Regions from separate parts of the Homo sapiens genome. Here region 2 is linked to region 1. Evidence: fine-mapped expression QTL. A gene starts in region 1. The other region holds a variant in brackets. All regions are shown on one strand. Distances are from middle to middle.

Region 1 (4,403 bases):
GCGTTTTCCTCACATAGAATTCTTTCTCTTTGTGGCAGACTGGTAATTCTCCTCCACATTGTCTGTTTCACCCTTCTTCAAAAGCAACAGTTTTAGCTGGGTTTGGGGTTACCTAGCATAAGACCATATTTCCTAGAGTTCTTTCTGCTGGGTGTGGCCATGTGACTAAGCTCAGGCCGATGTTATAGGAATAGAAGACATGTAAGCAACTTCCTGGTGATGTTTTTTTGTTTTGTTTTTTAAAGAGATGGGGTCTCACTATGTTGCCCAGGCTGGAGTGAGGTGGTGTGATCATGGCTCACTGTATCCTCCAACTCCTGTGCTCAAGTGATCCTTCCACCTCAGCCTCCTGAGTAGCTGGGACTATAGGTGCACACCACCACACATGGTTAATTTTTAAATTTTTTGTAGAGACAAGGTCTTGCTTTCTTATCCAAGCTGGTCTCAAACTCCTGGCTTCAAGCTATCCTCCAGCCTCGACCTCCCAAAGTGCTTGGATTACAGATGTGAGTCACTGCACCTGGCCTGGCTATGTCCTTAAAATGACTGGGTGGTACGTCTAGTTCTCTTTCTCCCGTTTTTCTGCCTGGGAGATGATGAGAACTGGAGCGGTCATCCTGAGCTTACAAGGGGAAGCCTTGTGTTGAGGAGGGCTGATTAACTGGACTTGGACCACCTGCCTACCTCGACCGTTGTGAGAAAAATTAACTGCATTGTGGTAAATCCTTTGCATTTTGGACTCTTTCTTACAGCAGCTTAGCCTGTACCTCACCTCCACTTATGAGCCTACTCATTCTGCAAATATTTCACCAGCCTAGAAAGAGCTTCTCCATCCTCTGAATCCAAAGCCCTTTGACCTGCCTCTTGTGTTTGGCCTCACTATTTACCTGGTACTACATTTGTCTGTGCATGAATCTTACCTGCTCTTTGCAGGCCAAAGAGGACAGGGGTAAAAGCTTAATCGCTTTCTATTACACAATGCCTAGCATATTGCCTTGGACAATGATTGGTTCCCAATAAATGTGTTGAATGAAGAAAGATGATTCTTCATTGTCTGTATACATGAATGAATTATAACAAAATTAGAAGCTAGTGATATTTGATTAAATAACCATATCTAAAAACTACTAGATAAGAGATTACTGTCAAGCTAGAGAATGAGGTGCCAAGTTGGCAAGCTACTGGTTTTTCTCCTGTTCAACATTTGTATCAACAACTTCAATGAACGATAGTCAATATACCCATTGTGCCTGTGGATAACACAACGGGAAGCCAAAAAAAAAAAAAAAAAACTAGATAAGAGAGTCAAAAATCAAAAAGATCTGTACAGACAAGAATAATGGATGAAAATTAAACATTAACAGAAAAGTTCTGAATATCAGTTCAAAAGTAGGCAAAGGGAAATAATGGAAGAGAAGTAGTTTAATTAAAGACTATGAAAAAGGCTTAAGGATTTTATTTGATTGGAAGTCTGGTATCAGTTAAGAATACAATGTGTTGGCCAAAAAATCCTAGTGCAATTCCAGGCTGAATACATTCATTCAGCAATGATTTATTGGGTGTCTACTAAGTGCTTGGTGTTGTGTGGAAAACAAGGATGAAGGTGTGGCCCCTGCTTTCGAGCAGCTTACAAAAGTGACATGTGTTCCTCCTAGACCACAAAGTAGAAAGCATTTGGTGCTGCAAAGTAAAAGAGACAGGAAAGGTCGGCACATGTATGATGAAGGGGAAGAGTGGGCTTGTGGAGAAGCACAAGGAATGATAAGGTAGGGAAGATATTTCAGTGCCAGTCTGTAGTAGGTCCTTAGTGCCAGGCCAAGAAGATTGGAAGTTATGTGAGGGGATGAGGAAATGAAAGATTTTGCAGCCAAAAAAAAAAAAAAAAAAGATGGTCAGTGTTTTAGGAAGATTTCTTTGGAAGCAGTCTGTTGGACAAATTGGAGTGGGGAGACACACACACAGAGGCTTATACTTGGCATCATTTCAAAGATTGATGTTCTTGTTCCTCATCTTCATTCTATAAGTGGAGAAAGTGAAGCTGAAGGTTTAAATGATGTCCCTAAAGACACAGAGCTGACAGGGGTATGCAGAAGCAGAATCCAGGATGGTGCTTCTGGGTCCAGTGGGTGATAAACCAATGGCAATTAGACCTTGCACAGTTGTTGGAGTTTAGAAAAACATTTCTGGAGGGACTTAAGGAAACCAGTTAAGAGATCATTTCCACAGGCAAAGTAAAAAATATTGAGCACTGAAAGTGGAAAGAGGGTCAGCTGGGGGAGAAACTGCTCTGATGCTGTGGGTTGAGAGGGAAGGAAGCAAGGCAAAGAGGACTTGGAGACAGAAGGACAGCAGTGGGATGAATGACCATGGGGAATACAAGGATGAAAAAGCAACTTGGAGGAGTACCATTTTGAGTGGGGCCAATTTTTTTTTTCTTTTTGAGACGGAGTTTCGCTCTTGTTGTCCAGGCTAGAGTGCAATGAAGCGATCTTGGCTCACCACAACCTCAGCTTCCCGGGCTCAAGCGATTCTCCTGCCTTAGCCTCCCAAGTAGGTGGGATTACAAGCACGTGCCACCATGTCTGCCTAATTTTGTATTTTTAGTAGAGATGGGGTTTCTTCATGTTGGTCAGGCTGGTCTTGAACTCCCCACCTCAGGTGATCCACCCGCCTCAGCCTCCCAAAGTGCCGGGATTACAGGCGTGAGCCACCGTGCCCAGCAACAGAGATTCTAGTGGGGCCCATTTTAACAGAAGGGGCACTGGAAATGAATGTGTCCAGAAGAAGGTAACTGGAAAGCAAATTGCAGGAATGAGAGAAGGAACTGCTTAGTCTGGGAAAGCCTAAGTTATTTGCAGAATTGAATTGAAAAGATTTCCGGGGAGAACAGATAGCTAGCATCCTACATCTGTAGAGCTTTTACAGAACAATGTTAAGTTGCCTCCTAACGAGCTTTAGCATGGCACCAGTGGAAGGCACTGTTAGATGGCAGCAATGCAGAGTTGTGGAAAGGCCAAGGGGCAGAAGATTTGAGGCAGATCAGCTCCTATCTGTGAAGCAGTATAGTGGGAGGAGCACAGACTTTGGAGTCACACAGACCTGGGTTCTAGTCCCAGCCTACCTCTACCAGCTATGTGACCTTGGGGAAGTTGCTGAACCTCTTTGTGCCTCAGTTTCCATATGTACAAAATAAAGAGGCTAGATTGGAAGACTTCCAAGATCTTGTCTAGCTATAAAATTCCTTGGTTCTAAAAAGGTGGCTTATGTGCATAAAATAAATAGATGGAAATACAGTATTATCTTCTTTGGATTTTGCTCTCAAATCTGTACTAATATTGGTTATCAAGTATGCACAGCCAGCCTGCTTCTGTTGCACTGCATGATGGCATGTAATGATGGAACAGAGCTGACATGTTCACAAAAGCACTTTTCTCTGTGGGTAGGAGTGGAAAATAGTTCCATTTAGCTGATATCACTAATTTTTAAAGAAAACCATATGAGCTAAAGAGAACTGAAGATGAATGTGGGAGCTATGAGTCAACCACTGAATCTCAGCTGCATTAATTTTACATTATAAATGACACAGTTTTAAAGTTTCTTAGATTTTATAATAGTTGAAATTTTTCTTTAAAAGAGTACACCCTATACATGCCGATACACGTTAAAAAGATTGAACATTTCTTCCCATTCTAAAGCATCTTGAAAACAATGACTGTGCTGTTAGCGATTTTTAATATAAAATACATTTCCTAGCAGTGTTATAAACCGCTAACAGCACTTTTTGTGAAAATTGGCTACTTCATACAAAAAAAACCTCACAGTTTTTGTTATCTTTGTAGGATTTTCTTCCCCCTTTTTGAATTGTTTTATAATGGATAATGTTGCTTAAAAACATCCAGCATTTCCATGAGAAATGAAATATTCAGAAGACTTCTGGATAAGTGATATTTATACATAGTTCCTTTAATCTTAAATACCTAACTCTTAAATAGCATATAAGAGAAATTGTTTTCCTTTACCGTCGTAGATTAAAAGTGGCATCACAAATTTTCAGGTAGGAAACTAAAATATAAGACCTAGAGATTATATAAGAAAGATCCACACTGGCCATCCTTACCTCAAAGCAAACTAAGACCCAGAGGCAGAGAAGAATTTCAAAGCCTGACTTAGAGGATTGTGGAAAATAATTATATCAAATCAAAGTTTAGGACAATCTTGGACCATGGAAAGAAGAAAAGAACATTTAGCACATTGTTAAAAATAGATACTCATTCTCTTTTAACCATAGACAGTTCTTTAACATCTTACATTAGCAACACAGACAGACTGGATCCAGTTTCAGTTCATTCTGTCACTTAACCATTCCACGACTCAATTTTTTCATCACCAAAATGGGGGCGATA
Region 2 (4,403 bases), 25 kb after region 1:
GTGGTGTTTATACTCATTATTTCATTTGCTTGTTAACTTAAAACAATCATTTGAGGGAGGTATTAGTTTCTGTATTTTTTTTTTTTTTTTTTTGAGACAGAGTCTCACTCTGTTGCCCAGGCTGGAGCGTAGTGGCACGATCTCAGCTCACTGCAACCTCTGCCTCCCAGGTTCAAGGAATTCTCTGCCTCAGCCTCCCAAGTAGCTGGGATTACAGGCGCCTGCCACCACACCTGGCTAATTTTTGTATTTTTAGTAGAGACTGGGTTTCACCATCTTGGCCAGGCTGGTCTTGAACTCCTGACCTCGTGATCCACCCGCCTCGGCCTCCCAAAGTGCTGGGATTACAGGTATGTGCCACCACACCTGGCCAGTTCCTGCATTTTATAAGGTGACTAAAGATAATGCAACTCAGAAAGGTGAAGTAACCTGTCCAAAATGAGAAAGGAAAAAGCAGAGCCAGATTTGAACTTAGGTGTTTTCCATTTTTCTCACTGGGTCATTCGACTACAGCTTTAAATTCTTATGTTTGGCCATTTTCTATCCTATTTAAGTAAGAAACTCTGTTGCTATCAGAAATGTTCCTGGCTATTCAAAGCAAGGCTTAAATACAGTCTATTTTGTTACTATGAAAATCCGCATACATAAATATTAAATAATAGAACCTAATAAAAGACAGATCCCAAACATGAAAGGTTATTTTGTTACTGTAACTTACTAAACTGACTTAATCTAATAAAAATACTATTTCTTCATAGTAGTCAGGTAACAATAAAAAACATATTTCAATAGTCTTGAATAAAAAATATGCCTTAAATGCAAACTGTGGATTTATACTTTATCTGATAGTTAAGGCTTCCAGCAAGTGGTTCAGACAGAGCCTACAATTTTGTTCTCTGTGTAAAATAAGTTACAGGTTTCATAACTCTAGTTATCTGGTGTTTCCTGGCAACTCTCAGTTGTTCCAAGTTTACTGTGGATAGCAGATTGAATATAGTCAGAAGGCCCCAACAAATAAATGGGCAATGGACAATTCACAAAATAGTAACTGTATCTGGCTAACAAATGCAGTTAAAATATTCCTGCTCCACTAGAAATCAAGGAAATATACAAGGGTTAACCTACCAAATTCAGGAAAAAGTGCTAGTATTCAAACAAAGGTAATGCAGTAACATGCAAAACATCATTGGTCAAGTATTGCCTGGTCCTATATACTATACGGTCTGCAACTCTGGTTCTCTCTCATTTGCTATTTTAATAAAGTATTGTACACTTTTCAGAAGAGCTTTAAAGTTTTATGATGTGTAATTCTAAATGTAGAAATGAAGCCTTCTGCACAAATAAGAGAAAACCTAAATGTCCTACAACAGGAAAATGGTTAAAAAAAACTACAGGTAATCTACCCAATGGATCATTATGCAGCCACAAAAATTCCACTTAGCACAGTTTATAACACGAAAAACCCACCTGTTATGTTGTTAAATGAAATGGCAGAGTACAAAGACATAATATGAAAAAAGTGACTACAAAATTCAAAAACATGCATTAATTTAAAAAAATCTATGTGGTAAGAATGAGAGAGAGAGAGAGAGACAGACATGGATACTATTCCTCAAAATGTTTTGTACTGGTCAATTTGTAAAATCCAACCTTACCACAGTCTTCACATTTTTATATATGAGATATATTTCAAAATGTGTTACTTTTATAGTGAAGTAGAAGACAAGAAATGTCGTGTATAGCCACACTATAGTCTGGGGTTATTTAGTGCAGGGACAAACATCCCTAAATACAGCTTTTTGGGCATTAGTAGTATCACTGCATTAGAGCACAGCAAAATTCTTGCCCATTAATCTATATTCATAATAACCTAGAATAACCAAAAGTTGTATTATGATAGTAAACTGTTAAATAGAGAAACATACAAGAGGTTGTAAGAAGATCTCCATCAAACCAGTATCGACACAGTATTTCATTAATATAAATCTTCCTGACATACTTTCATCATGTCACTCCCGTTCCCAAACCCTGAAAGAGTCCCCAGTGTCAGGAGTAATTTGAACAATTTTCTGCAGTGTGCACGCATTGCACAATCTGGTCCCATTCTAACGATTCTCCCCACTCTCATCCACGGGATCAAAGGCTCTCATTCACAAGCCTTGTGCTCGGGCTTGCCTACTCACTTT[C/T]TCTCAAAGAAACTTTATGTACTTTTGCTCAATCAGCCACCCACACCTTGATTTCCCTATTCCTTCCTACTCCTCCCTCAGCTGACTCCCCATACTTCCAGGCACAGACTGCCCTCTTCAACCCAAAGCCATCCTATATACACATAAACGCACACATGTACATATACCTCATTAAGTTATTGTCTATAAAACACACCAAGCACTTGGCCATATAGCCTAAAATTATGTAAATAAATATATGTATTATCTCCAGAATGCATCTGAATTTCCAAAGATTAGGGAACTTTGCTATATTTCTTTGTATAATACATTGCTTTTATATAATACTTTACAGCTCACAATGCAACTTCACATATATGATTTTCAATAAATACCTTAGTGACTTAAACTTCTCAAAGAGTTCATCCTAGAAAGATCTGGGATAAAGATATTCTTCCTCCCTACAACCCTCAAATAATATTAGTTAATGACAGAATTAACAATTACTTCATACTGAAGATATTCCCATGTGAATATAAAGAAATGACCAAAGTCTGTCTCCGAATGTGCAGATTTTAAATTTGGAGCCATACGGTATTCAAAGAATAGAAGCTAAAAAATGGCTATTCAAAAAAAAAAAAAAGAAGGATACCTCAGTAAAAAAAACTTATCAAAACAACATTTAAAATAAAAAATATTTTCAATTTAACATGGCAATCTACAATTAAAAATGACAGGTTGAACTTTTATTTAAAAAAGTCTATTTTCTTTGTTAAGTAGACAGATGTTTTCATTAAACCTACAAACTGAAGGCTCTTAAGATTTTTCTGAAACTTTTACAATAAATAAAATTAAGGTAGCCTAAACTATTTCAGAATGTGAAGTCACAGTAAACACAACTCCCTGGTGTTGATCTTCATTGCCATATACTGTTAAAAAGTACATGACCAAAAAAGTACTCTGACCAAAACTAAACCAAACACTTTCCAAAAAACCAGAAATCTAGTACAAATGAATTAATTCAGACTGGGTGGTTTAAATATAGTATTTCAGTTATAGTTTGGACTGTGTTTGATCACTGTGTTATAGAAAAAGGCCTTTATCCACATTTAAAAATAGGTACAGTATATTATATATATATATATATGGAGAGAGAGAGAGAGAGAGAGAGAGAGAGAGAGTGAGTCTCGCTCTGTTGCCCAGGCTGAAGTGCAATGGTAAGATCTTGGCTCACTGTAACCTCCGCCTCCCGGGTTCAAGCCATTCTCCTGCCTGAGCTTCCTGAGTAGCTGGGATTATAAGCATGTGCTACTAGGCCCCGCTAATTTTTGTATTTTTAGTAGAGATGGGGTCTTGCCATGTTGGCCAGGCTGGTCTCGAACTCCTGACCTCAAGTGATCCATCCACCTCAGCCTCCCAAAGTGCTGCGATTACAGGCGTGAGCCACTGCACCTGGCCACATTACATATATTAATGAAAATTAAAAACATGGGTTTTCCTAGGTAAAATAGTAATGTTGATAAATTCTATCTTATGCTGCATCTCAGGTTTGAATTATGATGTCATTAATTACCTATATAGTATCTTTAATATAAAACTAAAACTTCAAATCTTACAATATCATCAAGGACTTACCCATCCAATTCAATTAACTGACCTAAGTATTTTTCATAATTGTATTTTTATGTTAATAGCCAATCACTTCCCCCTTTCCAACAATTCACACTTATTCTATACAGTAAGGTTTCAAAATGACAAGTTTTTTTCCACCCAAGTATTCTACAGACCTCAAAAAGGGAAAGACTGCAGGGAAAACGAGAAATGAAAGAAATCTCTTGCTACCCTCAAATCTACCAACCTATACTTAAGAGCCAATTCTAAGCTCAGAAAGGAGAAAAAAAAAAGTGGGAATATAAAAACCTCTTAAAATGTAGAAGAAATTAGACTAGTTTAGTTTTCTTTAATATCTTCTTTAATAAGACATTACAGCACACAACTGAGCCCCCAGTGTGTCAGTTAAACATGGGGATGAATATCCATGTGAAGAGAATGGAAACAAGTTTAATCTTAACCCCATTCCTTTTGGCAAGTAATAGAAATACAGCATACAAATGGACCAATTCTCTCTCAGTGTTATTTTATCAAGTCTTTGAAGACACCATAACAGTTTTATAATGAACTTTGCTGCAATCTGTTAAAGAATCTTCAAATTAAATTACAGGGATGTTTGGTTTTTAA

The links.
Region 2: its variant is fine-mapped to the expression of ZNNT1 in whole blood (TOPMed, PIP 0.96).

The regions. Positions count from the first base shown.
Region 1 is chr8:101,167,625-101,172,027 of GRCh38, forward strand. ZNNT1 (ZNF706 neighboring transcript 1) reads right to left here and starts at 2,615. Exons shown (of 1, transcript NR_164368.1): 1 at 1-2,615.
Region 2 is chr8:101,192,933-101,197,335 of GRCh38, forward strand. It overlaps ZNF706 (zinc finger protein 706), which reads right to left. Exons shown (of 4, transcript NM_016096.5): 4 at 4,120-4,403. Among named protein-coding and RNA genes, the nearest start is that of ZNF706, 11 kb to the right of the region's middle. The variant C/T (reference allele first, on the strand shown) is at 2,187.